Linked DNA regions of Homo sapiens: regions 2 and 3 are each linked to region 1. Evidence: fine-mapped expression QTL. A gene starts in region 1. Each other region holds a variant in brackets. All regions are shown on one strand. Distances are between the middles of the regions.

The links. PIP is the estimated chance that this variant, and not a neighbour inherited with it, causes the effect.
Region 2: its variant is the best candidate, but not a certain one, in a credible set for the expression of MYO3B in thyroid (GTEx, PIP 0.71).
Region 3: its variant is the best candidate, but not a certain one, in a credible set for the expression of MYO3B in tibial artery (GTEx, PIP 0.73).

What each region holds. Positions count from the first base shown.
Region 1 is chr2:170,176,237-170,184,292 of GRCh38, reverse strand. It overlaps MYO3B (myosin IIIB), which reads right to left and starts at 6,146. Exons shown (of 35, transcript NM_138995.5): 1 at 6,004-6,146. The coding sequence starts at 6,005. RefSeq lists an enhancer at 3,735-3,964.
Region 2 is chr2:170,204,575-170,215,685 of GRCh38, reverse strand. It overlaps MYO3B (myosin IIIB), which reads right to left. Exons shown (of 35, transcript NM_138995.5): 4 at 1,203-1,307; 5 at 858-957. Among named protein-coding and RNA genes, the nearest start is that of MYO3B, 32 kb to the right of the region's middle. RefSeq lists enhancers at 190-881, 882-1,573. The variant T/C (reference allele first, on the strand shown) is at 5,130.
Region 3 is chr2:170,384,059-170,395,169 of GRCh38, reverse strand. MYO3B (myosin IIIB) reads right to left here. Exons shown (of 35, transcript NM_138995.5): 13 at 8,898-8,981; 14 at 7,862-8,064; 15 at 3,552-3,650; 16 at 2,675-2,789. Among named protein-coding and RNA genes, the nearest start is that of MYO3B-AS1, 39 kb to the right of the region's middle. The variant A/CA (reference allele first, on the strand shown) is at 5,159.

The sequences.
Region 1 (8,056 bases):
ATATGATCTAGTATTTGATAGCACAAAGGGATGACTACAATCAACACTAATTTATTGTAAATTTAAAAATAACTAAAAGTATAATTAGATTGTAATACAAAGAAATGATAAATACTTGAGGTGATGGATACCCCATTTAACCTGATGTGATTCTTATGCATTATATGCCTGTATCAAAATCTCATGTACCCCAGAAATATATACATCTATTATGTACCCACAAAAACTAAAAATTAAAAATAAACAAACATAAAACCACAGAAAAAAAATCAGCTATTAGAATTTAGCAAAGATAATGCAACATTAGGGAATATATTACTATGATTTTCCCATTAATATATCAAAGTATGAAACACCATTAAAAATGGAAATCCAAAATGAATCTGGTAAGTTTTAATATCTAATTTTTAGAACATTAAAAAATTCAAATGGGTTAATTCCTTTCTAGCATTTAAACAGCACAGAAACATATCTCTCAAACCAAAAGTCAACATCTTAGTTAATAATGGATTTCTACAACCATTGCTAATAAAAATCAAGAAAAAAGACAAGTATCTCTCACAAACACTATAAAATTTTGCATTGTTTTTGAAGTATTAGCCACTGTGATTAGACAAAAAAACATAGAAATAAACACTGGGAAGATGGTGAATATAAAATAAATAGTGGAATGATTTATTCCTGGAAAATCAAAGTTTAACAATGAAAAAAATTAAGTTGATTCATTGAGGAGCTGAGTATAAAATTAGCATCTAGAAATCAAGCAATTTCAAAATATATTTTTCTATATGTTAAAAGTAATCAGCCAGAAAGAAAATAGCATTTTAATAGGAATTAAAGAGAGTAAAATGCCCAAAGCTAAACCTAACGAGAACAGAGCAGAATGTATAAAAGTAAAATCTTAAAATCAATGGATTAAATGAAAAGAGACCAAAAAAATGCAAAACCATATACCTTATGCTTGGATAGAAAACCTTACTGTGAAGATGTCAATTCTTCCTAAATTTAGTCTGAAAGTAAATAATTGTTTTTTTTTGAGACAGAGTCTTGCTCTGTGGCCCAGGCTGGAGTGCAATGGTGTGATCTCAGCTCACTGCAACCTCTGCCTCCCAGGTTCAAGCAATTTTCTTGCCTGAGCCTCCCAAGTAACTGGGATTACAGGTGCATGCCACCACGCCCAGCTAATTTTTTTGTATTTTAGTAGAGACGGGGTTTCACAGTGTTGCCCAGGCTGGTCTTGAACTCCTGAGCTCAGGCAATCCACCCGCCTTGGCCTCCCAAAGTCCTAGATTACAGGCATGAGCCACAGCGCCCAGCCGCTTTGTTTTTTTTTAAGAATTTGACAAAATGATATTAAACTTCATTAGAAAATTAAACACATGAGGGCTGGTCACAGTGGCTCACACCTGTAATCCCAGCACTTTGGGAGGCCAAGGCAGACAGATCACTTGAGGTCAGGAGTTTGACCAGCCAGGCCAACATGGTGAAACCTCGTCTCTACTAAAAACAGAAAACTTAGCCGGGTGTGGTGCAGGTGCCTGTAATCCCAGCTACTCAGGAGGCTGAGGCAGGAGAATAACATAAACCTGGGAGGCGTAGGTTGCAGACAGCTGAGATCACGCCACTGCACTCCACCTTGGGCAATGGAGTGAAACTCAGTCTCAAAAAAAAAAAAAAAGAAACAGAAAAAGAAAAACACATAACATGAAAATTTTAAAAAAGAATAATTAGTGAACATAATTTGACCAGACACTAAAACATGTTATACTGCTAGAGTAATTAAAACATTATGCCACAGGGGTAGAAATAAGTAGTCAGATCGTTAGACTAGAAACCAAAAGTAGACTCAAATACACAAAGAAATAGGGTTTATGATAAAAATCACATTACAAATCAATAGGCAAAAGATGGACTAAATAATACTGTTCAATAAATTATGCTGGCTTAACTTGCTGGCTGTTCAGAAAAAAAGTTAAGCCAGATTGCTACCTCATTCCTTTCTCCAAAATAGAGTATGGTGGCTCAAAATTTTTTAAAAAAATATAGCTAAATACATTATAGTCTTGGTGTAGGCAAGAAATATTTTCAAGTAGAATAGAAAACTCACAAGCCCTAAGAAAAAAATTGATAAACATAATTGCATACAAGTAAAAAGGTCTCTACAACCAAAAGAATTGTTGTAAGTACTAACATTTTTCCAAAAAATAAATAGAAAAGAAGGTTTGTATCAGGAGCTAATTTTCTATCAAGAGTATATACAATAAAAAAGAAAAAGACTCAAAAAATTTAAATGTATAAAAGATGCTAAATCTCACTAGTAAATTTTAAACGGCAAATCAAACTAATGAGATACCATTTGTCTCCTATCACACTGTCAAGATTTTTAGAAGTTTGATAATAGTGTTAAGAGAAATAAGCACTCTGAGACAACATGAGCGAAAGCGTAAACAATCTTTGTGAGGAATTATTAGTCAAAATCTACCAAATGCCCATTCCCTTTGTCTCTGTAATTCTACTGGTAGGCATTTACTTTACATATATAATCAAAAAAAGCACACTTAGATTTATATTAACAGAACATAAAAGAAAAACCATCATCTCGATCGATGCAGAAAAAGCATTCACAAAAAATTCAACATTTATTCAAAATTTAAAAACAACAACAAAAATCTCTCAACAGACTAGAAAGTGAAAGGAACTTCTTCATCTGATACAGGAATCTAGGAAAAACCTGAAGTTAACACCACACTTAATGGTGAAAAACCGAATGCTTTCACCTTAAGATCAGAAGCCAAGGATGTCTGCTCTCATCATTTATATTGAATACTGTGGTGAAGCCAGAATAATAAGTCAAGAAAAAGAAAATTTAAAAATCCAGATTAGAAGGGAAGAAGTAAAATGGGCTTAATTTGAAGATTACATGATTATCTATTTAAAAAACTGATGGAATTTATAAAAACATTACTAGAACTAATTAGTGAGTTTATCAGAATTACAGGATACAAACAAGGTCAATATTTTAAATTCAATTATATTTCTACATACTAGAAAGGAAAACTTTTCAACAGTGCTAAAACAATTGTAGAGCAATATGCAAAAAGAAAAAAAGAATCTTTATCCTTACACCACATATAAAAATTAACTTTAATCATTAAACAGATGTAAGAGCTAAAACTCTATTAAACTTGAAGTAGATAGACATACAAGATTGTTCACTATAGTATTATTTTCAGTAGAAAACCAGATACAACCTAGAGGCCCATCATCATGGAGAGATTATCTAATAAATCATAATAGTTACATAAAATTAAATACAATGTAGCCACAGGTAACCACCAAAAAGAAAAAAGGTAAATTTTCTGCCAATTAATATGGAAAGAATGCCAAATATACAATTAAGATTTGTTTTAAAAGTGTTGAATAGTGTATAGAGAGGACAATTTTTGTGTAAATACAAAGAATATTTGCATTTCTAGTCATTTTATGTGTATATTTGTGTGTATGTCTCTATGTATGTGTATATCCTTATATACATTTTTCCAGAAGGCTACACAGGAAACTCTTAAACTTTAGGGAGAGGTGGTAAAAATCAGAGAGTTTGGAAAAGAGAGAAATTTATATGCTTTTTAAAATTATTACACATTTTTAGTCATGTTTTTTGCTAGTGCATATGTTATTCTACTTTTTAAAATAAATATTTTTTAAAAAAACATATAAGAGATCTCTACAGAGGAGACTATTATGACCCAAATGTGTGCTGAAGTCAGAGGATAGCAGAAACCATATGAAACAGAGGCTCATCCTGAGAAGAAAAAGAAAACAGAGAAATAAGAAACTGAAAGGACCATGCTTGAGAGAGTGAGACAAAGAGGATTAGTGAGTGGGTTCACTGTGAATTCTACATCTTGGCCCTCTGAGGCCTGCTAAGCTTTGCTGTCTGTCCTTGTAACCCATGAAATTTCCTACTGCATTCTTCCAAGCAGCCCCTCTTTTCATGAGCTGATTTGAGTTTCTCGTGAGCTAGTTTTAGTTCCTTAACAACCCCAAATTGGTCTAGTCTGATCCCTTGTTGAATACCCTGAATTAGTCCCTAACGGAGGTACAGCCTTACCTTGTTGAAAGTAAAGCACTCTGCAGCATGCACCCTGTGAATGTCTGCAGTTAGTCAAGCCTAGCGAGCATGATTTAAATAGAAACTTGCCCAGCAACATTTTATACTCATTAGAAAATTCATGATGAAGATTTCCATTGCTCAGTATGCTATTCAGAATATTTTTTCTAGATGTTATAGTATGGTATATATGAATCACAAATCATAGAATGCTTTCAAATCTAGAGAATAGATTTTAGAAAGAAGAAATCGGAAACCTGAACTGTGAAATGTCAGAGGAAATCTGTACAAATATTAAATATAACACCCAGAGATACACAGAATAAGGAAACACATACCATACAAGCGTGAGTAAATTAGAGAATAATTCCAAACCAATACATAAGCAAGTGCATAATAGTTGTGTTAGTCCATTTTCTGCTGCTGTAACAGAATACCACAGACTGCATCATTTATAAACAATAGAAGTTTATTTGGCTCATGGTTCTGGAGGCTGGGAAGTCCAAGATCAAGGGGCCACATCTGGTGAGGGCCTTCTTGCTGCATCATAACATGGTGGAAGGTCTCACATAGTGAGACAGGGCAAGAGAGTGAGAGCTCAAGAGAGAGAAAAAGGAGACTGAACCTATCCTTTTACTAGGAGCCGTCTCCCACAATAACAGCATTAATCCATTCATAAGGGCAGAGCCCTCATGACCTAGTCACCTCTTAAAGGTCCCATTTCTTCTCACAATGGCAATTAAATTTCAACATGATCTTTGGAGGGGACATTCAAACCATAACCATGGTAAAGACGTAAGAGTAGGAACTGGCTTCTTCACAAACCACCTATCTGGATGCTGCTAGATAGGGCCTGTTCAAGTATAGCTCAAATGTCTTCTCTTCTAGGAGGCCTTTCCTAATTTTCCCACTAGAACTGACCTTTATGGTTCCACTGATTATGTACTCTTTTCCTTTCTTTAAATTTTATTTTATTTTAAGTTCCAGGTTACATGTGCAGGACGTGCAGGTTTGTTACACAGATAAACATGTGCTATGGTGGGTTGGCTGCACCTATTAAGCCCCCCATGCATTAGCTATTTATCCTGATGCTCCAGGGGAGACACTCAGGACTGGCATTTGACAGAGCTTGGTAGAGGAATCCAATGATCTCTAGGTTGATCTCTAAGTTCCATCTCTAATGTTCTATGGATTTTAAACCTTGAATATACAAAATTACTGAGAGGAAGAAAAGAATCATGGCATAATGGAATTTATCTACTATTGTTTACATTGTCATGTTACCAAATTAACAAATCTGTCATGATATTGCAGTCACTAAGGAACAATACATACCCACAGCTCTTACAAATGATTAACTAAATGATCAGATTTTTCATTTCCCCACCAAAGCATGAGGAAATTTATCTTAGCTTTAGCTGCCTGAAACCTCTCTTGGGTGAAAAACATTAAAAACATCTGCAAATTACTGATGACTAATGCCCTTCAATTTGGCCTCAAGCTGAGAAATTCTGTGCAGAAATAAAGTGGTTTATAATCCCACAGGTCCATTCTATTATAAACTGCAGGTGGCAAATCAAGTGACTATGAACTATGCTGTGTGTATGTGTGTGTGTGTGTGTGTGTGTGTGTGGTGTGTGTCTGTGTAAAAAGCAATACTCAAGAGGGTGTTTATCCTACTCCTTCAAGAGAAATTTAACCACCCAGACAAAAGGCAAATGCTAACTGAGAGGACCCAGGAATCTGGGTGATGTCAGACAGAGGCCCAAAGCCAGAGTGGCTGTCATCCCCCTCCACTGCCCACCAGCCAGGGCAGCTGCATCTGCCCTTTGCAGAAAAACAATCTAAAGCAAGCACAGAAGAAAGCTGGAAGGAAAATAACTGCAACTCACATCGATGACCTATTTTCTGAATCCGGCTTATGAGAGATTGGATTCTCATTCCTCCAAAAACCAGCAGAACACTTCAGGCCCAGAAAATGGTGTCTTTGATGACTAGAATGTATGACACATCATTACCAAAGGACTTTCGATCTAGGTTCCAAGAGGTGTTAGCCTCAGATGACTATTGTGGGAGGAGCTGATAAATCCACCAAATCCTTGGTGACTTTGCTTCACTATTAGGCAAGATTAAGATGATGCTAATTGGTAGTGAGCCTGATCTATTTAGTGTCTCCTACCAGGACACAGAGCAGAATCAAAACCATTCTCACAGATCCTGTTTGCATGTCATTTAACAGTTCCAATGTGATATTCCCCCAACCTTTTAAAGTTCCTTCATTCCAGATTAAATTCCTTCATTCCAAATGCTGCACAATCAAAACTAATCATCTTTTTGTGAGCAAAGGGCATAATCAAAGCATGTAGTCAGGGTCACTTTTCTGAACTGCAGATAAACCCAGGGGAAACACCATGAGTTTCTGATCTGAATTACCAAGCAATGAAACAGTGACTATTCAACAGTGACTATTCATTCAGTAGCATGCCCTGGGCTATATACAGAACAGTAGGTTAAGAGGAGGCAGGGGGTGGGGGGGTGGTGCTGGGCATGGTGGATCACGCCTGTAATCCCAGTACTTTGGGAGGCCAAGGCTCGTGGATCACCTGAGGTCAGGAGTTCGAGACCAGCCTGGCCAACATGGGGAAACCCCATCTCTACTAAAAATACAAAAATTAGCAGGGTATGGTGGTGTGCGCCTGTAATCCCAGCTACCAGGGATGCTGAGGCAGGAGAATTGTTTGAACCTGGGAAACGGAGGTTGCAGTGAGTAGAGATTCTGCCACTGCACTCCAGGCTGGGCAACAAAGTAAGACTCCATCTCAAAAAAAAAAAAAAAAAAAAAAAAGGGAGAGAGGGGAAGTGAGAAACAGGAGGGTAGGGTCCCCAGAAAGCTTCTTTTCTGGCCAGCTAACATGACACATAGGCCCATGTGAAATAGTTGAAGACTGTGCAATAACACTGGATAAGCTATATCCATCAATTCTGAGGAGGAGTCAGTTCAACCCAGGACCAAGACTTGAGTGGGAATGCTTCCTGGAGCAGATAAATCTAGGTACAGTTTTGAATGAAGAAGTGAAAAGGATTAGTGTAGATGAGGCAGGAGAGAAACCCAGAGCCAAGAAACAGCACACAGAGAATGCAAATATGAAGAAGGTGATTTAAAGGACAGCGATCTTACTCCCGCTAGTCAATAATGGCCTTTGTGTTTCCATTTACTGTCATAAGAATCTTAAGAATGGGGATAATGTGTTCTATCTTCCTATATTTCCTACAGTATTTGCACATAATAATTGCTCATATTATAGCTAGTAGAATCATGGATTCCTACAGTTGGACTGAACTTATCATCCCATCTGCTTGCAGAATAAATTAATAAATAAATGAACAGGTTATTAAAATTAACAGGTTGTTAAAAAGATCAGCCTGGTTCCAGTAGAAGAATTATAAAAATAATCAAGAGATGAAGTTGAATTTGTATACAAGAGTCAGTTGAAGGCAGAGCTTTCAGGCAGCCTGGGGGGCTGGAATTTTTCCTCAAAGGTGAGAGGGTGCCACACCAGGCTTTTAAACAGTAGAGTAACATAGGAAATTTTCTTTGAGAAAGAGTGTCTTGGCAGATTTTTGCAGGAAAAGGCAAATCAGAAGGCCAGCAGGATTCCATTGCAACAAGGAGTTAAAGGCTATACAGTCTGGAAGGTGACCGACAGCCTGCCCAGGCCCAAGGGAAAAAAAATACCAGATGCCCCAGCAGAGGAGGACTGGCTAGACTGTCTTCACCAGGGATTTGCCCGAGGCCCTTTCAGCCACTGGGCCCCAGTAATTTATCCTAATTTCCTTCCCCACAGCCCCGCCTCTCCACCTCAACCCTGATAGTACTTATTAGCTCAAAATGGACCATCTGAAGGAAGGGACAACCTCTTGCGAACGAACCGAGGGCCTGGTCTG
Region 2 (11,111 bases), 30 kb before region 1:
ACTAGTACGTCTAAACCAACCTCATTTATTTTTAAGTAATTTCTTCTGAGCAAGTGATAAACTGATACATGTTTACACTGAACTCTTTCTTAGCAATAAGACAATAAATATTCTTTTAAAAAAACACGTTTAAAGTGTTTCACTAAATGTTTTCTCATTATTTGTAACAATGACTCTGAAGTACTATTGCTGAACTCATTTAGAAGACTAAACCTTCAATAAACTTAAAAAAAAAACCAAATGGTTTGTTGTTTTGTGAATATCAACATATGATATTACAAGGGGATATTTAATAGTTCTCTGGCCTTAGGTGATATTGCCCTGCATTTCCTCTCACACTTCCATTTCCCGTTAATGTTTCCAGTTCAACCAGCCTCACATGTAGCAGCAGTAAACACAATTTAAAAGGATGTTAGCTCCCAGGCCCAGAGGACTATTTTACCTTCTGCTCCCTGGGAATAAGTATGCCTAAGGCTAGTGAAAGTCATTTGAAAGACCAAACTGCTTTCTCTTTTCATATGCAAAAGAAGAAATGACAAAATGTAAATTATAGACAATTGCCCTGAGATGTGAAATTCTTAGCAGAAAACCGAAAAGTTTTTCCATCAAGTTCTTCTTTTGAAACACTTTTATTTTCAATCTTTATAAAATTGCTTCTAAAGCTGAAACTAGATTAGCAAACAGCATCTCCTAGGGTGATCCATCTGGAGCCCCCACCCCCTCCAGCTTGTGTTTGACTGGAAAAGTCCCTCAGCCTATGGTGTAGCAGAGAAGCCCCAGTCTTCTGAGATTGCAATAAATTGTCCCCTTTGGCTAAACTGCACACGTCAAGAAAACAAACGACAAGCAGTCATTACCAAAGTCAACGAGCTTAACTCCTCCTTCTGTTGTCAGAAGAATGTTATTCCCCTTCACATCACGGTGGATGATTCGGTTGTTGTGCAAATGCTGAAGGCCCTGCATGGCATCCCACCACCACCAAACAACAGGAAAGAGAAAGGGGAAATTTACATGCTTATTTTAAAGCAATTACCCTACTATTGAAAAGTCTCATGAAAGTCTACATTTGGCTACACCTTCCTGCTGTTAGTAATCCTTGCATATCATAGGGCAGTTTCCCCATTGTTAATATGCAATAAGGACCCAAGCAATGAACAAACCATCCCATCTGCTGTCATACCCCATTTGATAGATGTTCTTACCAAGAGGGCCCCGTACAAGATGTATGAGATCATTGCTTCATCCAACCGCTGGCCACATCTGAGTAGACCTTTGACAAGCTCAGTGACTGAGCCCCCATTACACAGCTGCAAGAAGAGGTGCCAGACACAGGGAGAGCAGGAGACCACATGTGAAAAAGAAAAGAAAAAGAAATTAAGAAAAGCCGACTGATACTGATTCAATGTAGTAAATTTGCAGATTACAAAACTCCAGCTTGGAATACTCAGACTTCACATTTCCATTACCCAGTCTAATCTAATTCTTTGCGTATGTATTTTTTATTTGAGGTGATGATTTATGAGTGAAAGTGCATGTTCAAAATGCTAACTTTTTAATTGCCAAATATAAAATAAAAATAAAATATAAAGCACAATTAGAAATTTTTTACAAAGAATATTTTTGGAAAGAAAAAGCATATAAATAATAATGGCAACTTATTGGATATTTTTCACTTTATATGAATATTGTCTATGTTTTTAATGTGCATTTTGAGGATAAGGAAAAACCGGGAGAGGCAAGATGGATGCCCTTGATACCTGAGAGAGAATAAATTTCAGTGATTTCTCCAGTGCTAGCACGTATCAGAAGCCCAACCAGCAGTTCTTCCTAGAACTGCCATTGCAGATAAAGTTTATGGAGTGAAGTTGCATCATAAGTGCATTTATTAACTTTTTAATGTTCAATTTTAGGCTCTCAGCAACTTTATGCTCTTCTCTCTTTTTTGTCTGTAATTAAAAACACTAATTTTATTTTGCATATTTGTTCTTTGTCATATATTGTATCTTAACTGAAGTTTGAGCACATAAAGCAGTTATACTGAGAGAAGAGAGACAGACCCTCTCATATTGTTTTATATTGTTTTATACTCAGAAAAGAAAAGCAAAACAAAAGGCAGGTAGCCCGGTGCCTAGGAACCAGACCCGAAACCAGGCCTGGGCCTGCCTGACCTAAGCCTGGTAGTTAAAGATTGACCCCTGACCTAACCGGATATGTTATCTATAGATTCCAGATATTGTATAGAAAAGACACTGTGAAACTTCCCGGTCTGTTCTGTTTCACTCTGACCACCGGTGCATGCAGCCCCTGTCACGTACCCCCTGCTTGGTCAATCGATCACGACTCTCTCACGCGGACCCCCTTAGAGTTGTGAGCCCTTAAAAGGGACAGGAATTGCTCACTCAGAGAGCTCGGCTCTTGAGACAGGAGTCTTGCCCGATGCTCCCGGCGGAATAAACCACTTCCTTCTTTAACTCGGTGTCTGAGGAGTTTTGTCTGCGGCTTGTCCTGCTACAATACTTTTTCATCAACTTAAGGATTTCCAAAGATGACTCTTACTAATTGCAGAAGTCAACGTGCAGGTTTGGGTTTGCTACAAGCCATCCTAAGTCAAAGGTTCTTAACTGTTTTGAGCAGAGCATGGAAATACCCTGAAATTGTAGGCAGCATGCTGTATATGCATCTTGCAGTTTACTGGGGAGAAAATGCAGAGCTTTCACCAGATTCTAAAAGCTACTGAGATAGCCAAACGCCTAGGCAGATAAAAAGGGGGTCCCCAGAGAATCTCTGACCTGCCCCGCAAGTGTTTACATCAGATGCTTTGTGCAGATTAGGCAACAATTGTGCCCTAGGCTTGTATGGGCATCCCCACAGCAGACTGGAGCCAGACACGAGCACTGGGGGAAATGGGTGGAGCCACGGGGAATTCACGCCTTATGCAGGGAAGTAGCCTGCTCTCTTTAGCTCGTGTGGTGACCTGGGAATCAATCGGTGAGGTAGAGGGCCTGTTAGCAGGACTCCATCTCACTTTGCTGAGTTCTTTCTTTTTTTTCCTTTTCTCCCAATAAATTCCGCTCCTCACCCTTTTATGTGTCTACCAATCTAATCTTTCCTGGTCAAGTGACAAAAACCCCGTTTTGGTGGAACTAAGGAGAAAGTTCTGCAACATTTTTGGCATCCAGGCGTAGGGCTTAAGGAAAGGTGAGTGACATGCAAACCAAAAAGTCTTTTTCCTTTGGCTTCTAAGCCTTTTTGTCCTCCGACTTCTTCTGAGGGTAGAGAAATTATGCCCCCCCATATTAAAATGTCATTCCTGGAGGTCAGGAATGTCGGCTGGACGGGCAAACTGGTGGCTCCCCAGCTCCCAAGTTTCTCTCCCTGTTGGAGAAACTCACTGGCATAAAAATAAGAGATTCTTCCCCCAGACTTTTTTTTTTTTTTTTTTGAGAGGGAGTTTCACTGTTTTTGCCCAGGCTGGAGTGCAGTGGCGCCATCTTGGCTCACCACAAACTCCGCCCCCTGGGTCCAAGCGATTCTCCTGCCTCAGCCTCCAGAGTAGCTGGGATTACAGGTATGCGCCACCACACCCAGCTAATTTTGTATTTTTAGTAGAGACAGGGTTTCTCCATGTTGGTCAGGCTGGTCTTGAACTCCCGACCTCAGGTGATCTGCCAGCCTCGGCCTCCCAAGGTGCTGGGATTACAGGCCTGAGCCACAGAACCCAGCTGGCTTTTTTTTTTTTTTTTAAGAAAACATTTTACCAGGCCAGGACCCCAACTATCAGGGTTTATATTTTCTGTAAAGTTTTAATTATGAAAAAGGATTTGTGAGGTTGGTCTTAAGCTGTAGCCAATCTGGTGTGCTTTGCATGACTTCCTGTATGGCCAACAGCAAACTTTGCTGCAGGCCTCCATCTTGTTTTGTGTGCTTGGGATTGTGACCTGTAACCATGTGGCAATGCTTTTTGTTTTTCATTTCACAATGATGCCTAGGTTCAATCCTGGCTTAGGAAATGAGTACTTTCCAGTTAATATCTGTGTGACTTCTGCCATTTGCTGATTCTCTTCCCCACCATGAACAACGCTTAGCCTTTTTCTTACATCTTCCTTTCACTGGGTTACCTCTAAAGGTTCTAAATTTTGTAAGAATTGCTTACCCTTATCCCCTTCGAAAATACCGCATACGCTCACAGTGAAATAATAACCTTAAGTGAGGCTTGTTGGTTTCACCTGCGAGGTTAACGTTAGTAAAGTTTGAAAGCCAGAAATACTAGCTGCTTGGCATGGCTAAAATCGGGTAATAAGGGAGTTAAAAGGATTTTCTTAGAGAGTGCTCAGTTTAATTAAAAGTGGATGTCCAAGTTATGGTTTATTTAAAAGGCCTTTATGCTTTTTCCTCTTTGGGTATCTTGCTTTGCTGGAAAAAGGCTTTTCCTCAGTTGACTAAATTATTTTTCTCCATTTGGCTTGCCACTCTCAGTGCATGCATGGCAGGCCCTAAGATAACTCCTGGGGCCATGGGACTCCTTGGGAAAAACAGACAAGGCACCACTCCGTTTTGGGAAGAAACCTGTTTTTCTCATGGAACCCCAGGAATTAAAAGTGGATAGATCCCTCTCAAACTCTGATTTTGCCTCCCAGTCATGCCTGTTTATTAGGCCTTAAAAGCTGCATGTTTTCCTAGCCCTGTCTCTTAAAGGGCCCCACCCAGAGGCCAATAATCCAAATAGGAGATGGGCAAATGAAAATCTTATGGCTGCTGGTTTTCTTCTGCCTGTCTGTGTAGTTACATATGTGTTGTGTGTGTGATGTCTATAAAAAAGCTCTAATTAATTGGTCTAATGGAAGACAAGTGCTTGGATCAAATTTTTTTTAAAGGGAAGATTAAAGCTGTGGTACGTTTTAGTTCATGTGACTTTAATCTTTGAGAAATAAAAACAGCCTTAAAGATTATTGGTAAAATGCAGATGTTGTCAAATATACACAGGTGAACTAAATTATGCAGGTCAGATACTAGGTTTGCTAAATGTTTTAAGGTTATAAACTGCCTTTTTGGTTTTTAAGAACTTTTCAACTTGCCAGCTTGACAATTAGTAAGGCCTGGGGACATAAGGAATTAACCACACCCTTAAT[T/C]ATGTTGGAAGGAGTCAAACCTTGCCTGAACCTAGCACATAATTAAAACAACTTACCAGGTTTTACATTAAACTTAAAATTGCTAGGGGTTACCATTATAACATGTAATTGAAACTACTGGAAATAGATTTACACGCAAGGTATGTAGGAACAGTAAGATGTGTTTTTAGTAAAAGATTACAAGAAGGCATGGAAATGTAAATTCTTGCCTAGGTTTAAAGGACTGTTTTGAATTAGATAAAATAAAGCTGACAGTTTAAACAAATGATGGAAGGACTGTAAAAATTAATATTGCAAAAATTCAGTGTGTGAACAGATTGACTAAATTCAAAAGGGTATTATATAGTTTTTTTGTAAATTGAGCATTGAAATAAAAGCACAACAAGGTACTCTTAAGGCACTAATCTGCTCTTTAGCAAAATTTGTAAAGGGTTATAAAAGGTTTTTGCTTTTTTAAATTTCTGAGTCATCGTTTGGCAAAATAAATAACTTTTGGTAATCTGGAATTCTATTTCAGTGTTTTAAACCACTAACATATTTAATAGGCTTCCCAAAATCAAACTTCAGTTTCAAAATTGCCTTTCCTGACACCTAGCTTTTGGATGCTACAGAGGGCCCTGGAGTATCCAAAAGAGAGGTAAAAGGGATCATTTGACATGTTTAGTTACATGGAATTGCCAAAATGGTGTTCAATATTATTTAGGTTATATTTTGATGAATAATATTAATATGTGTTCCAAAATTGTATGGGATTTTTAAAATTCTAATGTCTAATGTATATGCTATCATCATAATTAAGGTTGTTATGTTATTGTAAACCAGACTTCTTTGAGAAGAAGAGAGATAACCAAACTTCTTTGTCAATTGTGTTTCTAACTGTAAATACCCTGGGCAATTTTTTTATTCCCAACAATTGTTGTCTTGTTTTGGTCCTTTTCAAAAGATAGTTTATAATAAACCAGACTCTGACAGGTGCCACAGGACTCTGACAGGTGCTCTCAAATACAGGTTTCTGATAACTTTGGAGATTGTGACATTGGAAAAAAGGAAAAATGTACAGGACTCATAAAGAGCTGAAATGTTCATGAATATCAAACAAGAGTTAACTAAATGGACCGAACTCATAGAAAACTGAAGCTATCTTTTTGACTTTTGCTTGGAATATTGCTGACCCTTGTTTTGTTTTTCAGAGTCAAGGAAACTTATTTTGAACTATTTATGGCCTTTAATGATTAAGGTATACTCCTGTGAACAAAATTTGGAGCATATATGTCCCTCTCTGCCTGGCTTCCCCAGAATTTGGAAACTAGTTGTGAGTATTCTTAACTTACAGCAATGTAGTTGTTTGCATCAGTGCCATAAGAATCCATTTTCTTTTGCAGTATGATGCAATTGGAGAAACTGTTTTACCAAGGCTTTGACTGGAAGGGTATGCTTCCCTTTAAGGAGTCAAGCTCGACTTGCAGAGCTGCTAAAAGCCCCTTGGGAAAACTGGCCTTATCTACGCAGTACCTGTATAGGGTTCCTGACCTGTAGTAAGTAAAAAATGTTACTTTATGACAGGACCAGGAGCTCTAAGTTTATCTTGGGACCTTAAAAGGAGAGGATCACCCAACTCACAGGTATTTGAGGATACAAACCCATGGCTGTGCTCAGCTTTAAAAGGTCTTATCCGAAATTCCTTGAGGAACAGAGTTCCATCAAAGCCAATCTAAAAGGCCTATGTAGAAACAATTATTCTTGCTGCACTTTATGCAAATAATCAGGTCAAGTGTAAGACTAAAGTCTATTTTGCCAGCAACTCAGTCCTGATTTTTTTTTAACAAAAAAATGAGGGACTGGAGATAGAGAAATTATGTTTTAAAACTTACCATACATTTGTCATTAAATTCTAGACTCATTAGTTGTTTTTAAGTTTTTGCCTACCCTTTAGACTAACCCTGCTTGTTCCTGTGAACCAACCAGGAATCTCCAGCTGCAGCTTAGAAAGAATAAAAGGGATAGGTGATGTAAAAACCTGGATCAAAATTCTAGTTCTGAGCAATTATCCTGCAAATACTGCCAGGTGATGGGAATAAATAGGATATAAATAGGGTGCCCATCACCCAGAGTTTTCTTCTGGGGAAAGTAAGACCAAGGGAGCTAACCAAAGCCAAGCCCCATGCACCTACATCTTAGCAAGCATAACTATAGCCACCAGTTATCTGGGCATGTCACAAGACATCCTTTTCTCTCCCTTGTTGGAGGAGGACTCAATTCCACAGCTTCACCTTAGCATTTGGCTTATGATAAGGAGTCCATGCAACACCCCTTCTCCGAGGCACATTTTTGTCCCAAACTCAATTCCAAGCTTCAGGTCAAAGCCCTAGGAAAGAAAACTGGATTTGAGGGATCCAGAGGTAGATGATAATGGAAGTTAAAAGGCATAGCACAGGTGAGCATGACTGGTTTCCTGCCAGTTAAGCCAGGCTTCCCATTTCATGGATAAAGGTCATGATACTACCCGTGGCATAAATGAGGTCTAGAGAATTCAAAGGCTACTGACAGCAGAGGAGATAGGGCATACGTGGGTAAGAGTGGATACTCCCACCCCCAGACTCCCTTTTAACAAGGGTGAAAGCCGCTTTGACTCCATGGGCAGTACCCTGTCACAGTCACTGGAACTTGGGGATACAAGGATGGAGGAAAAGAAAGAGGAATGACTCACTTTCTCTCCCTCATGTACCCCAGGTATTTGCTAGGAAGAGAAGGGAACCAGGGATGCCTTGCTCTCCTCTTTCTAGATGAGTAGCCATTCATCTTCAGTCTGTACCCCTTTTGAGTGCATCCTGAACCCCTGGGATGCACTTTAGACTAATCCTTTGAGAAAAAAAAAAGCCTTTTTTTTTTTCTTTCTCTTCCTCTCTTCACTGATAGGTAATTGTCTCTCTGTACTATGGGACACTCCCCTCAGATGCATCCTCCAAACTAGGAACAGTTAATTTCCCAAACCTTAGACTGGTTGGCTTAGGATTGCGCTCAGGGGAAGGGAACCCAAAAGCCTGACACGATGGCAGAAAGGTAAAAGTTTTTTACCAGTTGGGCTTTTGGCCTCCCTCTTCCTGTGCAAACATAAAAGGCCTCAAGACTTTTGAGCTATCCCCACCCCCTGCCCCCATTTTGTTTTAATACATGTTTTCTAATAACCCAGTTTGTCTCTTTCTCACCTTCATGACATCAAACTCCAAATGGTCATGCAACTGGAGCCTCGGATGATGGCCCCTTTGGCCAGCAACCCTTAGATAGGCCTCTGAGGGAGATCTGACTGTTTTCCCCTAACTGGAGTTAGGGGAGATTAAGAGGACAAGATTAGAATGAGGATGCTCCCTCTGGGAGGGGGGTGTCTGTGTAAGCGGGTAATGATAATAGAAATTTCAGTTTCTTATGATCCTCTTCCCATTTGGAAATCTAAGAGGAGACCTCTTGATAACAAGGGGTGTCTGTGTCAAGTGAAATGAAAGTATGGCATGGTGAGGTAGACCATGCTTGAGATTACAATAACAGTTTTCTACAATCTGCTCACAACTTGTAAGACACTCAGAACTTCATGCTCTATTTGGGGACAGGGATAAGGTTAGAGTTTAAATAAGGACAAAGGACATGAGGACCTCATGATAGGAGGGAGTGTCAGAGACCAGGAACATCAAAGATACCAAAGGGAGAAAATACAGTTTTATTATCACAAGGACTTTGTGGTTACAATACAGTTCCGAAGCCTCTGCCCTCACTACCATGGCATTATGTAAGCATCTACTTGTACCCAGATCCAGATGCCACCCAGGGAAAAGGGAGAGGGAAGAGGGAGAGAAGAGGCCCTAAAAAACTGAGTACGTACCCAAATGACTAAGCCTTGAACTGGACAGTGAAAATTGGATATAAATACTGGAATATGCCACTCCACAAAGTCACTCAACTGGACTTAAGTTTAACAAAATGGGTTAGAATCAGTTGCCTCCTTTAGTCAGGCTGGGGGCTCAAGAACCCAGTTTAGTTCAGTTATTGAGAAGAAAGGCACCTCTTTGTTATCAATAGTTTATGACTGTCTGGTTTATTACCTATTACTCAATCATGAATATGACACAATCTCTAGCCTCAAAGAGGTCACTGCCCAGTAATGGACATACGAGTAATTATAGTGTGGAATGTGGAAGCAGAGCTGTGCCTAAGGAAGTGTGGTGGCACCAAAGAAGGAAGGGTGAACTCTGCTGAGGGAGGGCAAAGAGGGGACAGTCTAGGAAAACTTCCCAGAGGATGTAACATTTACAATGAGTTTGAAGGACAAATGGGTTTGGGGCAGGTGGACATGAAGGGAAAGAAGATTCTGTGAAAAGGAACATGGGGACATCTTGTGCAAATGTAGGGGGCATGAAAGAATGAGGGGGAATGTGCATGTGAGGGTACATGTGTGTGATGAGTTCTAAATACTCTACTACTGTTGGGACAAAGGATGCCAGAATCCTGGGGCAGGGAGATGGAGGAGGAAGGCCAATGACAGGGAATGACAGGTATGCCCTGCTAAGGAGTATGGGCTTTATTATAATATACTATGTATACTACCCATATAATATATATCCATATACTACGCATATAATATATACCTGTATACTACCCATATAATATTCTATGTATATTATAATACCATGATATATCACTAGATAAAAAAGGGAAACTATTAACAGATTTTAGGCAGGAGGTCTCAATGTTCAGACTGGCATTCTAGAAAAATGATTTGGTCAGCAGATGGAGGATGGACAGAAGACAACACTAGGAGCTGGAGTATCCATTGGAAGATATTGACGTAATCAAGAGAGGCAGGGTCAAGAAGTCATGAGGATAAAAGGGAGGGAGAGATTTGGGAGACTTTTTTTGAGATAGAAATGACAGGAATTTCTGACCAGCCACATGTGAAAGGTGAAGAAGAGACAGAGTCTAGGGAAACTGTGAGAATTAGGAAAATATCAATAGTCTTTGCTCCTCTAAAGGAAAGGCAGTAATAGGGATGCAAAGCACAACAGAACCTTCATCAGGACCACTCCCCACCCTGGCTCACATCTCAGGGAGGCACAGGCTTTCTTGCATTGCAAGCATGCTATTAAAATTCTACTGAGAGAAATTTTAAATTAAATGCTGGGTGATGATCCCAGAAAATGCAACCCTGGAATTTTCCCCTGACACCTCATTTTGGTCTCTCTCCCTGCCCTACTTTAAGTGTGGCCATTTTTGCAACAAAGGCCTCTTCAGCAATATTTTATATAGGTAGCCAACTTATAAACTTTATTTGTAACTCTAGAACTTATGAAGGGATTAAGAGTAGCTATTTGTCAGCAGGATCAAAACTCAGCTATGGATTTAAAAACAACAAAGGAATCTTACCCAGCCAGTGCTTTTTGTTCACTAAATGTCAGAGTATAAGAGCTGTCTGACTTCCCAGAACTCACAGAAACATATAATTAAACTGCTCAGGACACTTTTAAAGGAAGCTGTCCTGTGAAGTTGATAAGCCCACCAGCAAGGTTTTCAAGGGCAGCCTATGGGTTATAGAAAAAAGACTGGGCACTTGGATATAAAAAAAAGAAATCAGGTGTACACTGACAATTGTCTAATCAGAATAAATGTTCAGTGAAATGGGTTGAACATTTTAAAAGCATAACAAAGAATTATATTTAAATGCACCAAGTAAAATAATCCCTTTAGAATTGTAAGAAGGCAACCAAGCCTCCCACCCCAGCCCTGAGGGTTGACATATCAGCCCTTTATTCCCGCCCACTCTGCCAGCCACCAGATTCAAATACAGAAGTGTGTTTTCATTCCTGCAGTTCCTCCCTACGCCCTCAGCATTCAGGAAATGTGGTAGCTGAATGCATCTAGAATTTAATGAGCATTTTGCTCCAAACCAAGAAAAATAGAAAAATCATTTACATTCCACATCTATTTTCCAAAACG
Region 3 (11,111 bases), 210 kb before region 1:
ACCAGGGAAATTTCTTTACAATAAACTCAGGGTCAAGTGTTCTTTCAGATACTTTGGCTGTTGTCCCAGAATTAAAATTCATGCTCCTGACTCCACACTAAAGTTTGCTACTCATAATTTTGCTGTAAGGGTTTGAGAAAAACTAAAGGGATTCCTGCAGGGAACTAGTGACATTGTAAGAAAGGAGAAGAACCATAATTTTGATTGACTTGATCAGTTCATTTAAGCTTTATCTAGAAATGTCTGCCAGAAAAACTTAAGAGAAAGTTCTGTTACATCAGCATTTGGCATCTGTTTCCTGACTACCTTCAACTGGATCTTTCTGAATTTAGTCACACTACTTTTTGAGTTTATAAACATGAAGTGAACTGAGTTAACTCAGCAAAACAGGTTGTCAGCAGAGATAGAACCACAGAATTCAGAGTTGGAGAGAGAAGATCCTGCTTCTTCCTTTCATTTCTAAGGTTGCAGCTTATATAAATTGGTTTATTTCCTGTATGAATTAATGTGGGACATGGTGAAAATATACACACATAACACCATTACATTCTGGTTATTCATTTAACAGTACAGACCAGGCACAAATGAAAAATGTTCACCATCTTTTACATTTTTTTCTTTTCATGTTTATTCATACAGTCATTCATTTATTTCTATTGTACCTTTTTTCCCAGAGGGGCTAGGGATGGCTTACTTCAAGGACATATACTTAACATACTTAATTCTTCTGTTTTTAATGCTTTAGTGTTGTTGTACTAAAACAGATTTTAACAGTTTTCAACGTTGTTTATCCTGAAACAGATAGCATCTGTTTTATTATTATTAGCAGTACATTGCTATTATTAGAATGGCACCATTATATACTTTCTTTTAACCCACCTAAGCCTGAGGTTGCAATGTTTTGAATTTTTGCAATCAGACCTTGGTGATGACCTTGAGCAGTAGGGTATAAATAACTCCCACATGTTTAGCATTCCAATAATGGAACACTAGGCATAAATGGGTTCAGCTAGGATCAGTCTCTTCACAGTATTCTATAACTATATTTGTACTCAAAGAAAACAAAATATTAACTCTGTTAATGATTATTAACCTTGACTTCTCTATGGTTCCTGTACCCTTTTAAGGACATGTGCCCCTGCGTACTTTGGCATGACACAAGTGACTTTAAATTGCTCCACTGCCATTCCTACCATGCTTTAACTCTTCTGGGGATGCATCTTTGATTTAAAAAACCTGTTCTTTAAGTTAATAACCACAAAGGTCCTTTAACAATGCTAGAACCTGTTTAATTGCCCCCCTCTAAGAAGCCAAGGAAAATATATTTATATTTTTATCTGACCTTTGGGATTTTCCATTGTCTGTCAGTTTAAAGTCTGCGGGAGGCTGACAGAGAAAATTAACAGCTGGCTAGACAGAAAAAAAAGAAAGGTACTATTATGATTAAAATCAACCATGCAGGGGAGGGAAGGGCTAGCCAATCATACTGCATTACACAGAAGTAATCCTTTATCTGGAGTGGCCATCCCAGGGTAACTGGAGTGTCTTGTAATCTAATCCCTTAAGATTTAACACTCTCACCTACCTCCTAATAATTCACCCCCTTTGTTGGAAAAGCAAAAGAATCTATATATTTTGCAAAATTGATGGCATGAAGCCCAGAAACTATGACATAATGTATCACAGAGTAATATTTGAGCCTAGGGTTATAAATATTGTCTGTCACCCCTAGCATATATTTAATACAGACAGCTTGTATCTAGGATGATAAGGGTAGTACAGTATTGGCCAGGCATGGTGGCTTATGCCTGTAATCCCAGCACTTTGGGAGGCTGAGGCAGGTGGATCACTTGAGGTCAGGAGTTCAAGACCAGCTTGGCCAACATGGTGAAACCCCGTCTCTACTAAAAATACAAAAATTAGTCAGGTGTGGTGGCACACACCTGTAACCCCAGCTACTCGGGAGGCTGAAGCAGGAGAATCGCTTGAAGCCAGGAGACAGAAGTTGCAGTGAGCTGAGATCCCGCCACTGCACTCCAGCCTGGGTGACAGAGTAAGATTCTGTCTCAAAAAAAAAAAAAAAAAGTAGTACAGTACTTAGAGCTATAGTTAATAATGTGCAACTGTGTACCCTGGAGAAGGAAATAACTGCAAGAAAGTTGAAAGGGTTTTAATTAGTTTGTCTTGTTACCTAAGGAGCTACTTGCATAAATATATTTCTGTGACTTGGGTGTCATCTACATATTCCTGTACTCCTACCCCCCGTTCACTTTAATGGTTGGAAGAACGCTCAATCAGAAAAAAAACCCACAGTATTGTTTTGGTATTTGTTATTACACGTGTAATGAATTGATGACAATGATAACAATTTATCAGCACATGGTCCTTAAAACAGTGCTCCCCTAGTTTGATGTTCATCTGGACTTCTCGTTAAAATGATTATATTCTGATGCAGTCATTCTTGGATAGACCTCAGGGTCTGCATTTCTAATAAGTTCTCAGGTGATAACAATGTTTCTGGTCCTGGGACCACACTTTGAGTAGCAAGACCTTATAACATGACCAACATGGCATTTGAAAGCAAGTGTCTTATCCCAAGTGAGAAATACCACATCTTTACTCACATTCATATAAGAATATTGTCACTTGAGTTCCTCTCTTGATCATCACTTACTTTGTCCGTGAACCCTATAATCCTGAAGCAATGCTGAATTGCTTCGAATTGTCTTCTGTAAGACTCCTTGGAAGTTATGTCGTGCATCACCCTTCCAGTTTCATCAGCTATGTACCTAAATGAAGTGGAGCATGACCAAACAGAATGAGCACTGACTTGGAAAGTAGTACAGGCATTTCCATTTTTTGTTTGTTGTTTGTTTAAAGATGGGACCTCACTCTGTTGCCCAGCCTGAAGTGCAGTGGTGTGATCATAGCTCACTGCAGCCTTGAACTCCTGGGCTCTAGTGATCCTCCTGCCTCAGCCTCCTGAGTAGCTTGGACTACAGGTGTATGCCACCACACCCAGCTAATTTTTTTTTTTTTTTTTTTTTGAGACAGGGTCTTGCTCTGTCACCCAGGCTGGAGCGCAGTGGCACGAACTTGGCTCACTGCAGCCTCGACCTCCCAGGTTCAAGCAGTTCTCCCACCTCAGCCTCCCGAGTAGCTAATTAAAAAAAAAATTGTAGAGACAGAGTCTCACTATGCTGCCCTGGCTGGTCTCAAACTCCAGGCTTCAAGTAATCCTCCCACTTCAGCTTGCCAAAGCACTGGGATTACAGGCATGAGCCGCCACACCCAGCCCATTTCCTTTATAGTCTAATACTGTGGTAGAATAATGATGCAAATGGCTGAAAAAAAATAAACCATGTGCAGTTGAGTTTTTGAACTTTCTAGACAATGAAAATGGTGGATACTTCCTGCCACCTCACCCTGGGCACTTTAGTTAAATAGACTGTGAGTTTCCAGTTAGGAAAACAGCTCCATTTACTTCCAAGTTTGTCAACTGCTAATCGTACATTCATCAAAAATTAACAACCAACCCCCCTGACACTTACCTAGGAGGTTTTTCCTCAGGAAGTCTGAAATCAGAAAGCTTCTTTTGGTGATGAAGACCAGCATAAATATAGTAAAATATATGAAAATTTTTCTCTCTCCTGAAAAAAAAAGAGACTTTAGTAATAATATATTCTGGCTTCCCCATCCCAAGTATTTTACACCATTTCCTTTCTGTACAAAAGATTATTCCATGGCAAATTTGTATTTTCAGGCAATTAAATATTATAAATCCCACTTACAGAATAGTGATAGGATTAGTATAGTAATTGTCATAATGTTGCATTATTAAACACACTTTACGACAAGCAAAAGGTTTCAGAGAATGGGACATTTACAGGAAACAGCTCAAGTTACATATGTTGAGCTCTTTCTATTGCAGCCCAAACGCCTACTACCTTCTGCTTGTACCACATGTTGCTTCAGAGACAGTGAGGTCCAGCTTAGAGACATCAGCCAAATCCTCTACTTTACTGGAGCCCTAGACAGGAAGTGGCCTGCAAGTCTCACAGCAGGTTAGGGAGCAGAATTGGTCCAGAACTGAGGTTTTTCACTCTCCCAAGCTGGTATTCTTAAAAGTACTACTCAAAATGTCATTCATTAGTCTGGTCTCCTGCCATCCACCTCTTTTAGGCTACCCTGGCCAGGGTCCTTTCAGATAGGTGCTACTCTGAGCATAGCCTGTGGACTGCTGTCAGTTTCTAACAAGAGAAGGAACTGGTAAGTACATGCCTAGACGTTTTATAGCAAGTGACATTGCCATGACATCCAAGAGCATGATAATTTTTCTGATAATTAATTTGCATTGCATTTTACAAAGGTATTAGTTCAAAATGGGTTGGAGATTTTTTTTAAAAAGTGGTCCCTTAGCACAGAGTTTGAAAAGCACTGCTCCACATCCCCTTCTTTCCTCTGGAGGAGGACAGTCTCTTCTGTAGATACCCTTGGATTTTGGCAAATCTTTTCTTTGGTCAACCTAGCTCCATGAAAAGAAATCGTCTTTCTTCTCCCCTTATCCGCCTTTGTGGCATGGCCCCCATTCTGTTCAGCCTCTCCTGGGTCTCCTCATCTTCCTTTGGTTGTTTATCCTGTCAAAGCCCTTCTGTGACATTCTTTATCCCTGCCCTGTATTCTAGATGCCTCTACTTGCCATTTCTCACTCACTTGTTCACTTAACTAATAAATCTAGTTAAGAGACAGGGTCTCACTCTGTTGTCCAGGCTGGAGTGCAGTGGTGAGGTCATAGCTCACTGCAGCCTCAAATTTCTGGGTTCAAGCAATTCTTGCACCTCAGCCTCCAAAGTAGCCATGACTATAGGCACACATCACCATCCCCCACTAAGGTTTTTGTGTTTGTAGAGACAGAGTCTCACTATGTTGCACAGGCTGGTCTCAAACAAGCTATCTTCCTGCCTTGGCCTCCCAAAGTGCTGGGATTACAGGCGTGAGCCACTGTGCCCAGCCCTTATTTTTATTTTTTAAAAATAAATTTTATTGTGTATATTTAAGATATACAACATGTTATAGGATATATATAAATAGAAAAATGTGACTATTCAATGAATAAACATATTAATTGCCAGTCACGGTAGGCACTATACCAGGTGCC[A/CA]GGGATACAGGACTAAAGGGATTCATGTTCTCTGAGTGTCATTATAAGAAGCCAAGATGGCTACAGGGAAACCAGTGAGGGGGTCCAGGTGAGAAAGCATAATAGCTTGGATAGGGTAATGGTAGTGGTGATGGAGAATAACGGTAAGCTTAAATATTATATATATTCTGGAGAAACAACCAAAAGAACATCCTAATAGACTGAATGAGGATGGTGACGGAAAGAAACCTAGAGTCTGCCTCCTAGATTTCTAGCTTGAGCATCTAGTGATGGTGGCACCCTTCACTGAGACAGGAACCGAAAGGCCTGAGATGAATGTCACTTGTTCTTTAACCTCTGTTACATGTGCAGGCTTTGGCTGGCCCATCTTAGTCTTACATTCCTTTAGTTTTTCTACAGATCCATCTAGTTCTCAATTCTTCCAAGCTTTTCCTGCCGACATCCATCCCTAGCATCACTTCAGTTTCATTTTCATCCCTTTATCTGTCAAGATTGGCTAGGCTTTGTTATGATAATAAACACCCCCAGATCTTAGTAGCTTAACTCAATAAAGGTTTAGTTCTTGCTCAGAGTACATGTCCATGGCAGGTCAGCGGTGGGGCTGTGCTCACTGCAGTCACTGATGGGCTGTGGCTGGCAGAGCAGCCCCCATCTTACACTGTGCCAGACTCTGGAGGGTTGCCATTACATGCCCACTTGCCAGAACCAGTTATATGACCACACCCAGCCACACAGGAACCCTACAGTGTGCCCAGAAGGGGGTGAATCCCAACAGTTAGATGAACAGGACTGGGACAGGCCCCATCTTCTCTTCATCTCATTTAATTCTCATAACAGCCTTGTGAGGTTGACATTATTATGCCCATGTTGCATATGAGGAAAGTAAGGTATATGAATATTTACATTAATAAGCAACATATCACATTAAGTGACCTAGAACTCTCCTCACATTATCTTTGTAAAAGACCACTTTACATTTGAACACAGAACACTATGCTTTCCATTCTGTCAGAGGTAGCTCCCTAAATTTTAAAACCACCCTAACCTGGGGAGACAAAAGCAGGGGACCTCATAAAAATTAATCAAAAAGCCACAGGGAAGCGTAAATGACTCTGACTCTGTCTTTCATTTGTTTAATGTTCATGCCAGTCCCTACTGCGTGAGGAAACTGCAAGTACATGATAGAGGAAGATGCTTGGGTTTTCAACCCAGAACAATTCCTGTAAATTCTACTTGCACAGTATCTCTCAGACTCCTCATCTTCTCTCCATCTCCACTGCCACCGCCTTAGTCTAGGCCAGCGTTCTCTCTCACATGAATCTGGCAACAGCCTCCTAATCATGTCAACACAATCCTTGCATCTCCCCCAATCCATTCCCCATTGAAGCTAGCGTGATCATCTCAAAATGAAAGTTGGGTATGGTGACTCCCCTGCTTGAAAACGTTCAGTGGCTTCCTATTGCCCTTAGAAAAAAGTTTGAGATCCTTATCCTGGTTCCAAAGCCCTGCATGATTTGGTCTCAGTCTTATCTTTGCCACTTTTCCTCCTTGCTCTGGTCCCCACCTCGTTGCCTAACTCCTGGTGATCCTGTGATCTCATATACAGGGAGCCCCTCTTTCTCCCTAGACTAGGTTATGTGTCGTTCCCTTCTCTCGTTTCACCTTAATAGCACCTACTTTGCTTTCTGGTGCTTATTACAATTGTTCTACATTTAAGTTTACTTGTTTAATGCCTGTGATCCTCCCCTACTGCTTCCTCATATACCGCATACTCTAAGCCCCGTGAATACAAGAATCTTTTTTATTTAGTTTGCTCTTACAAGCCAACACAAAGCACAGCACTGGCAAACAGCAGGGATTCAATAATGCATTAATATGGAAGTGCGGAGCCATGCTCCTGAGAAACTCTGGTGTCCTACAATAATAATAATAGCTATTATTATTAACAATTATAATAATAGCTATTATTATTATATGAAGAGTTATTATTATAATAGGAAGAGTAGCTAACACTCTGATAGTATGTACCACACCAGTGGTTATATTATTATCATAGGAAGAGTAGCTAACACTGATAGGGTGTACCACACTAGGCATTCTTTTAAGTAATTTTATATAAATGAACATGTTAATCCTCACAACAAACCCATGAGGTCAGCACTAGTAGCATTTCCATTCCACAGATGAGGCACAGAGAAGGTTAGTGAAATGCCCAATGTCACACAGTGAGTATCAGAACCTGCATTTGAACCCAGATCAAAGTCTGTGCTATTGATTTCTATTACCAAATGCTTTCCCTAAAAACAGAATAATTGTTTTCTCTATCTGTCTCAATCTAAGGAAAAAATTAACATGTGAAATATTCTTGGTGTCTTTTTCTTTTTTAACCAACAAGTTCAATTTTAAGGGGCCTCAGGGTTTTAAAAAATGTCTGCAATGCTGCTAAATTCTACCTGACACAACCAACTCAGGAGAAACAAGCATACCCATCCCTAAAGCACGCCCACCCCAGCCCTTTGTACTCTTTCCATTAATTTCTTTTAGGTCAAAAACTACCACTGATCCTTTGCTTAAATAATTCTTTGCCCTTGGGGAGGGTAGGGGAATGTTAAGAACAAGAATGAAAACTGAACCATTAAAATTTCCAAAGTCTCCCAGTTTTTACTGCAGGGCAAAAACACAGTGATAAAGTAGTGCACCTACGCTGCCTGTTTTATAACTCTGGATTTTTCCAGGAGATATTCAGAGATTCTTGCCCCCATCACAACTCCAGTTGGTGTAAACATCATTTCCAGATATTTTCCAAAACGGCTCGAGTTGTCATTGATGGCAGTGCATGAGTTCCCAAAGGCTTCCACCAGGGAGTTGACTTGTAGAATTTTCTCTCTCAAGGTCTGATTATTGGCCTGTGCCAAACAGAGAACGGTCAAGAAGAGACTCCAGAAACATTACACCAGCAAAGTTGCCAGGCACCATCCCTTGCCCACCAAAATCCACATGGTCTTTTTACAAAGAGCCCCATTTGGGGGACGTTAGCATCAACCACCAGCATCATTTTCTCATATGAGCAACTCCCCAGATCTGCATATGAATCGGATTTGGCTAGATTAGGACAGCAGTTTTAAAAATCCAGCCATATTTCATTTAAAATCCTTGACAGATAAAACACCTAACCAGTTTAGAAAGATTTTTAAATAGATCCCGTAACTTTTCTGGCATTTATCGTAATAGTCTATAAACCTTATCTATAAAAATTCCATACATTCTTTCTTAGTCACCTAGTACACTAATTCAGAGTGTAAGTAACTACTAGACTATTTGAATTCATTCTTTCAATATTGATTTCACCAAGCTGAAAATTTTCATTTCCCTCAACTTTTGCTCAAAGGCTTCTATTTTACATCCTTTTAATCACTATAGTGGCTTTCCCTGATCCTGTTCCTAGTGCTTAACCATTTTTACTACTTAATGGCTGAATGTTTCTATTACATTGAAAACATGAAAATTAATTGCCGATAATCTAGTAAATTTGTGCTGGAATTATTCTCCTCCCTACGTGAAGGAAGGATAGCATGCTGACATCTTAAGAGGCCTCGCTATCAGGAGGCAAACGTAGCAAAGATGGAATGTCTTTATGTAAGCCTTAATAAAAAAAACCCAGCACTTCCATCATTTATCAAATATGCAGTTACTCTGTAGGAACTTCTCGCCACAATACGTAAAGCAGATTAGTCAATACCTTTCCCAAGAAAGTCAAATGCTGAACAATCAGGTGGGCGCTTTCTGTCTTCCCAGAGCCACTCTCTCCGCTGATGACAATGCACTGGCACAGAAAATGGAGCGTCAAGTGAAGAATTTATAGCACAGAAGCAACTTGCATGCTTCATATAACATCCACTACTGTACACCTTAATTTTTCACTGAGAGATAGATCTTAGGCATCTTCCTATTTCAGTACATAGAGACCTTCTTCAACCTTTTGTATAGCTACTTGTTGTTCCATTGTACATATGTACCATAATCTGTTTAATCTGTCCAATATTGGGATATTTGAGTTTTTTCCTTGTAATTATAAACAACATTGCAATGAATAACCTTATACTTAAGTCATTATATTTTTATGCAGGTTCATCTGCAGGAGAAATTCCTAGAAATGGGGATGTTGGATCAAAAGGTAAATACATTTGTAAATTTGACACACGTTACCAAATTGCTTTCCTAGGGACTATACCAATATGTGAAAGTGCCTGCTCTCCTGTAGCCTCAACAACAGAATGTTAGATTGTTGACAATCTAATAGCTTAAAAAAATGGTATCTCAGTGCAGCCTTATTCTGCATTTTAAAAATTATGAATGAGGCCTCCTTCCATATGCTTAAGAGGCTTTTCTTTTACATGACCTGTCCGTATTGTTTGCCCATTTTTTATTGTATTGTTGATATTTTTATCATTCATTTCTAGGAGCTCTTTAGGTATAAAGGAAATTAGTGGATGTGGTATAATAAAAATTATATATTGGGTCTTTGTCCCTGGTTCCTGGCACTGAGCTCCTAAAACCTTTGGGATTTCCAAGAGTGGTAGGAGTATCTTTCGTTATTCACAAGGAGCCCCTTTCAACCATACCTCAGTTTATTCCTAAGAAGGTGGTTCAAGGTGAGCCCCCTAGACAGCTTCAGACTGGTCATTAGAAAGACCAAACATGTGATTAGAGTGTGGGAACTTTCAGCCCTACCTCCCAACTTCTAGAAAGAAGAGGGGATTTAAAGATTAAGTTATACAAATTCTTGAACAAGGAGATTCAGAGAGCTTCTGAGTTGGTGAACACATTGAGGTGCTGGGAGGGGGATGTGTCCAGAAAAGGCATGGAAGCTCTGTGTGCCATGCCCCCTTCCTCCCCCCATACACCCTGCCCCATGTGTCTCTTCTATTTGGCTGTTCCTGAGTTATACCCTTCATAATAAACTGGTAAATGTAAGTAAAGTGTTTTCCTCAGTTCCTTGAGTCATTCCTAGTGAATTATCAAACCTAAAGAGAGTCACAAGAACCCCTGGACTGGTATTCGGCTGGGCAGATGTGTGAGAAGCCTAGGTACTCCATTTGCAGCTGGCATCTAAAGTGGGAACAGTCTTGTGGCACTAATCGCTTAATCTGTGGAGTCTGTGCTAACTCCAGGTAGTGTCAGAATTGAACTGAATTGTTGGGCACCCAGTTGGTGTTGGAGAATTGGTTCATGCTGGAAAAAATACAACATTTGGTGTCAGAAGTGGTGTCAAAAAAGACAACACAGTGAGGCAACTTCTTAACTTAAAAACGATATATATTTCTCTCCATTTACTTCCTCCCTATGAAATCTATGGACATTTTACAAGTATCTGGGAAAGGTAAGAATTTGGAAGAGCTAAGTTTCTAAGCTACAGTGAATCCATGTATTCCATTTTATAATCTATGTTGTTATAATGTCATCTATTACTCAACAAACCCCAAAGCTGGGACTTTTCCAGATCTTAGGAAATCCACACATTGATACCCTCAGAAAATTTGCTTGCCAAATTAGACTACTTCTATTTCAAACAGAATAAAGAAACAAAGAAAAATATACCTATTGAAAGTAAAGAAGGGATGAAAGATTAGATATATGAGCAATGTGAATTAGAAGGCTAGAAAGGTAAAATGGATGAGCCTGTGTTTAGTATTGAGTTTAAGGTTTGTTCATTCTCTACCCAATCTATCACAATTTTTCAGCAGCTAAATGGTGTGGTGCATGGTCACTGTCAACCTCTGTGCAATATTTCATACAAAAAAGACTGAATCATGAAAATTCTAAGACCTTAATAGGAAAGAATTTCACTTATGCCATTCTATATGCTATTTTTATTACAATCACTGCCATGTAATCAGGTTGCGTTTGCACTGTTCTCATCATATTCATATTAGAGACATTTTTATTATATCTT